Regions from separate parts of the Homo sapiens genome. Here region 2 is linked to region 1. The links come from fine-mapping of genetic effects on plasma protein levels. A gene starts in region 1. The other region holds a variant in brackets. All regions are shown on one strand. Distances are from middle to middle.

Evidence for each region. PIP is the chance, under the fine-mapping model, that this variant and not a neighbour inherited with it causes the effect. The UK Biobank Pharma Proteomics Project read protein levels with antibody pairs (Olink). The fine-mapping took linkage between variants from a reference panel, not from the people measured, so its PIPs are less certain.
Region 2: its variant is fine-mapped to the plasma level of the IL17C protein (UK Biobank, PIP above 0.99).

Annotation. Positions count from the first base shown.
Region 1 is chr16:88,637,171-88,640,069 of GRCh38, reverse strand. It overlaps IL17C (interleukin 17C), which reads right to left and starts at 1,498. Exons shown (of 3, transcript NM_013278.4): 1 at 1,423-1,498; 2 at 761-1,089; 3 at 1-256. The coding sequence starts at 1,428. It overlaps LOC124903755 (a long non-coding RNA gene), which reads right to left. Exons shown (of 2, transcript XR_007065181.1): 2 at 2,636-2,899.
Region 2 is chr16:88,616,766-88,619,664 of GRCh38, reverse strand. The region is part of intron 8 of ZC3H18 (zinc finger CCCH-type containing 18); the gene reads right to left. Among named protein-coding and RNA genes, the nearest start is that of IL17C, 20 kb to the left of the region's middle. The variant C/A (reference allele first, on the strand shown) is at 1,578.

The sequences.
Region 1 (2,899 bases):
CACTGAACGGGGCAGCACGCAGGTGCAGCCGACGGGGACGTGGATGAACTCGGTGTGGAAGGCAAAGGCCCCAGGTGTGGGGAGCCCCGAGCCGTCGCGGGAGCAGGGCCGGCGGCGCAGCACCAGCAGGCTCTGGAGCAGCCGCACGGAGTTGAGCGCAGCTGTCTCGCGGCCCGTCCGTGCATCGATACAGCCTCTGCACAGGCACTCGGCGAAGGCCAGCTTCTGTGGATAGCGGTCCTCATCCGTGTCCACACTGCGGGACGGGGTGCACAGTGAGTCTCTGGCCCTACCCTGTCCTCCTGGAGGCCCCTCTCCCCTCAGGGCCCCTCTCCGTGTACTCAGGATAGGACCTGAGGCAGCGAGGGCTGAGCCACACGGGCTTGGGGTGCAGTCGGGCTCACATGTGGTGGTAATCCACGTCTCCCCAGGGCCCTCCAAGAGCACAGAGCAGGGTCCGGAGGCCTCTAGGAGCCTCCCTTCCACTTCATCACCCAGCCCCACTTCTGCAGGAGCTCAGGTGACGGGCCCAGAATTTCCCCAGGGGACCCTGGCCACCTAGGACAGTGGGAGGCAGGGCACGGCCAGCCGCAAGCAGCAGCTCAGCCGTCCAGGTCAGGAGGGCCGGAGGGAGGGAGCTCAGGTGGCCACGCCCACTTGACAGGTGAGAACCACCAAGGCCCAGAGAGCTCTCCGGGCAGTCAGGGCCCCGCCAGGGGAGGGGCAGCCCCACGCCACAGCGGAATCCCCAGGTCCTCACCGGTATCTCCAGGGTGAGATGGAGCGCTGGTGGGTGTCTGCCTCCAACACCTCCTCCGGCCGCAGCACCGGGCACTGGGTCGTAGCTGAGGGCCTCTCGTGCCTCCCCCTGTGGCTTGCTGCCTCCAGGCTGGACACCAGGGCTACAGGCAAAGCCTGCCCCCACTTGGCACCTCGAGCCAGCAGGTGTGGGGGGGCCTGGCCGAGGGGCAGTTCCTCAGCCGAGTAGCAGTGTGGGGTACCGTGACTGTGGGGGTGCCCCCTGAGGGAGGGGTCATGGTGGGCCAGGCATGTGTGCAGCCAGGTCAGAAACAGGAGGCCGGGGAGGAGCTGGTGAAACAGGCAGGTGGGTGGTTAGGAGGTGCCCAGGGCAGGGGGCACCTCACTTCCACCTCAGCTTTCCTTGTTCCCAGCGGAAAGATGGAGTACAGCCCTCCCTCTATAGATGGGGAAACTGAAGCCCAGAGAGGCTAGCCCTTCAGCCCAAGACACCCAGCATGCCAGCGCTCCGAGGATCTGCAGCTGCCTCCCCTACCCCCAGACTGAGGGGTTTCCCAGACCCCATCCCAACACCCTCCTCCCAGGCTCAGAGAACCCCAGCCCTTCCATGCCAGGCTGCACATCCAAGCAGCATCCATCCGAGCGGCATGTGGAGAGGCTCACCGTCATGGTGGCGGCAGCGGGGCAGGCTGGGCTTGGAGCGGCCTGCACACCTGGCGGCAATCCCACAGGTGCACCTGGCCATGCACCTGGCAGCAGCCGCTCTTATACCTGAGGCCACACCTGGGGGAAATTCCGGCACCACTTCCTCCTCGGGAAGTGCCCAGCTGGGGCGCTTCTTCCTTCTCTGGTCCCCGCAGCCCCCGCCTGCTGTGCATCAGGACACAGACATGCAAGGAGGCCCCGGGAGGCGCTGTCCTGTTACCCCCCTCCCCCGAGAGAGACTCCGCCCAACCTGAGCACCTACACAGGGTGCTGCCTTGTCTGACATTCTCAAACTTTTTTTTTTTTTTTGAGACAGGGTCTTGCTGTCACCCGAGCTGGAGGGAAATGGTGCTGTCCCAGCTCACTGCAACCTCCACATCCCAGGTTCAAGCGATTCTCCTGCCTCAGGCTTCCGAGTAGCTGGGATTACAGGCACCCCCCACCATGCCTGGCTAATTTTTGTATTTTTAGTACAGACAGGGTTTTGCCATATCGGCCAGGCTGGTCTGAGGCTCCTGACCTCAAGTGATCTGCTCGCCTTGGCCTCCCAAAGTGCTGGGATTACAGGAGTGAGCCACTGCGCCCAGCCTTGAACCTCCTATAAGAGGGTTTCTGCTTGCGTATCCGTCAGCACCTTGCTGATTCAACTTGTAGGTTTTCATCTGGACCTGATGGTGGCGGGGCGCTTTTGCACCCTATACAGTTCTTCTCCGTCTGCTGCTGGTGGGTGCCAAGGGTGGTTCAGTGTTTTAGCTGAGATGGTCAAGATCAGGTGAGGCTCACGTGCCCCCTTCACCCAGGTGGGAGAGGTCCCGGAGATGGGGGAGGCAGGCACGTCTTCAGGTCTCTGTTGGGTTTCTGTGTTGTTTTTTTTTTTGTTGTTTTTTTGAGGCGGAGTCTGACTCTGTCGCCCAGGCGGGGAGTACAGTGGTGCGATCTCGGCTCACTACAAGCTCAGCTTCCTGGGTTCACGCCATTCTCCTGCCTCAGCCTGCCGGGTAGCTGGGACTACAGGCGCCCGCCACCACACCTGGCTAATTTTTTTGTATTTTTAGTAGAGACGGGGTTTCACCATGTTAGCCAGGATGGTCTCGATCTCCTGACCTCGTGATCTGCCCACCTCGGCCTCGCAAAGTGCTGGGATCACAGGCATGAGTCACTGCACCCGGCCTGGGCTTCTGTGGTTTTATTGAGAAAAAAGTTCAAGCTAAAAAGTCTGAGTTGGAGGTGTGAGGAGTGAGGTGTGAGGTGTGAATGAGGCATGAGGCGTGAGGCGTGAGGTGTGAGGTGTGACCAGCACACACAGGAAGCTTTATGTAAGCGGGGCCGGGAGCTGCCTTTGGCCTCCTTGATCGGTGAGGCTGGCTGGGGGTGGGGGCGCTGGAGGTGCCTTTGTTTCCCCGGAAAGGGACAGCTGCAGCCAGAACTTGGGAAG
Region 2 (2,899 bases), 20 kb after region 1:
AAAACCAGCTGAGGTCCAGAGAGGCGGGCAGTGCAGGCCTCCACAATCTCAGGGCAGCTGGTGCTTGCCCCCCAGAAAGAGCTGCTCATTCCCTCTGGAGACAATGATACCGAATTTCAAAATGAAGATGGCCAGAGGCAGGCCCAGCAGGGGTCAGTGAGGTCTCTCCTTCTCTGGGCCAGGGCTGTGGACGGGCCTGCACCATCTCGTCACTGCACAGCGCGCCCTCCGCTGCCGCCGGCCGCACCACCTTCCTTCTGAAGCAGCTGCTTCCAGGCCCATGGAGCAAGGAGGTCCTATCCAGCAAGTCCATGTTACCACGTGTGGGACGTGGTGGTACTGATTTTAACCAGGATGCAGATAACCATTTTTTTCCTTTTTTCTTTTTTTTGAGACAGAGCCTCGCTCTGTTGCCCAGGCTGGAGTACGGTGGTGCGATCTTGGCTCACTGCAAGCTCTGCCTCATGCCATTCTCCTGCCTCAGCCTCCCATTGGACATTATCTCCACTGCACTTTGATAGCGAGTCTCCGGGCACCAAGTCTGCGGCAGAAAGCAAGGCTGAGCACTGGCTTTCTACAGCCCAGGGAACCGAGGCATGTGCCCTTCTCTCAGCAAAGAATGTCACCCCAGGGGACATCCTGATTAGACTTGGAAAAACCAGGCAGATACAAAATAAACAAAACCAAAACACACAACATGGGTGCCCCAGGACAGCCCACCGAGTGCGGCTCAGCTCCTTCACAAGTAGGGGCCTGCGCAGAGGGAGCCAGTGTGGGCTGAGAACGCTCGCAAGGGATGGCCCAGTCAGGAAGGCCCACCTCCAAGCTGGGCCAGGACAGATCTGGAATTTGCATGAACACTTCCAACCGCAGGGGAGAACCCTCCAGATGACCTCTGACTGAGGAAGTAGCCTTTCCCGCAGCACAAGGCCCGCGCTATCATCTGGCCCCCATTCCCCGTTGAAGGCCACAGGAGACTCTCTAAGGGGCAAAGGTCAGCTCCACCACCAATGCAAACATGCCAGAGGCAGACAAAACCAAGGGCCCGAGGCTGGCACACTCATAGCTCATGCCTCACCGATGCCAGCAGCCACACGAGGCGCCACAGATGCCAGGCTGCTACAGGCCACGTGTCCAGAAACTCCAACCCCAGCAGCTGTCAAGTTTGGGGTCAAAGGTGAAAAAGGATAAAAACGCATGAAGGTTCTTTCTTCAATCAAAAGAGCTAAGCATCTACATCAACAAGGGAAAAGGGAGATGGGAGCCTATGGGCCTCCCCGGGCTGAGCCTGCTCAGAGGCAGCTCTGGGAGCACCTCCACAGCAAAGCTTCTCTCCTGGCTTGTTCTGTGAGTGCCTGTGGAGCATTTAGCTACGGGCCACATGCTCTCCCCACCTCCCTTAAAACGTAACAGAAAAAGCCCAAAGCAGACCTGGAGTGCCCGCCCCATGTCTTTACACTTTGCAAAAAAAAAAAAAAGTGGAGTCCAATGGACGACCTGAGTGGCCGTCACCTTCTCTGTGACTTGTGCAGAAGGCCAGGCGGCCTCACTCACACCTGCAAGAGCCAGTCTCAGCG[C/A]AGAGCAGATACAAACACCAGCAACTGCGCCTTCTGTGCGTTCAACTGCACATGAAAATCCCTAACTCCACTAGTCCCTTACCCAGAAGGCTGGTCTAAAATAGGGTTTCTTAACCTTTCTAGGGGAGTCACAAATCCCTCTGAAGAAGACTGTGTAGCCTGGCCCACTCCCAGCAGAGATCTTGAGACTCCTGGGGTGCCTCAAACTGGCAGATGAGAGGGCTCAGCCCAAAAAACTGAGCATGAAGCGGTGGCCCAGGAAGCAGGCGCCCACTGGATGGGCCGCCAAAGGGGTGCGGACTCTGCGGTGTCCGGAACTTACCAGGGAAGAGTGAGAATGAAGAGCCCGGGGTGAGTAGGTGCTGGGGGGCGAGTGCTTCCAGTCTCAGGGGTCCACCCCACAACCCCACCGCAGGAGCCTGCCAAGCTCAAGCCCTGAAGGGGCACCCAAAGCTGCAAAGGTAAACCTGGAAGTTGAATAGCTTGGAGACAGCAGGCAGCCCAGACAGCTCCTGCGGGAAGGTCCCCAATCAGTGTTTACATTTCTAATGACAATGACTAGCCAAAGAGCATCGTAATGACGTGCCTCGGCGGTGAGCACACCCATCGGCCTAGCTATAAAGATTAGGTTTCACATAAGGGACCGCCCCCTTAGCTCTACAGATGCATTTGATAGAATTGATTGAAAGGTTCTGCTCTAATCATTTTAAAACAGCCCAGGTGGAGGAGTGGGTAAGCCTCAAAAGGCAAACTAGGACGGAGAGAGCGGCACAACTCCGTCTCCAGCCGCAGGTCCAGGGGGGAGCTGGTCAAGAAGCCCTGCCAGAGATACCGATGGGGATGAGATCCCGACGGGGACAAGCTAGCCAGTAACTCCCAGAGCCAAACAGCTTAGGCAGTAAGAGAGAACCTCAGGAAAGAGGGGTATTAGCTTAGAGATAAGGAAAAGAAATGGCTCCCCCATGGACAGAGGGCTGGCCATCAGATAGCTCAGGGCAGTGTTTCCTATTGGGGCTCAGCATTATCCTTCCCGGGGGAGGCCCTCAACTCTACCCAGGACACCCATGGCACCCAAACAGTGGCCGACTCTCGCTCCTCCCGCTGCACGACTGTGCCCCCTCTCGTGAAGCTTGGGGTGGTGAAGTGCCTGCTATAACGAGCCTGGGCCGCGCTTCAGACCAAACAAAAGTGACTGCGCTTCACTAGGGTGTAGCCCCCATGCAAGGCCTAGCCCTGGTGCAGCCGTGCTGGACACTGCAGAGCCCCTCATTCGTGTTCTGCTTGGTAGCTGAAGGCAGAATCTTCCCAAATGGATCTCCCTG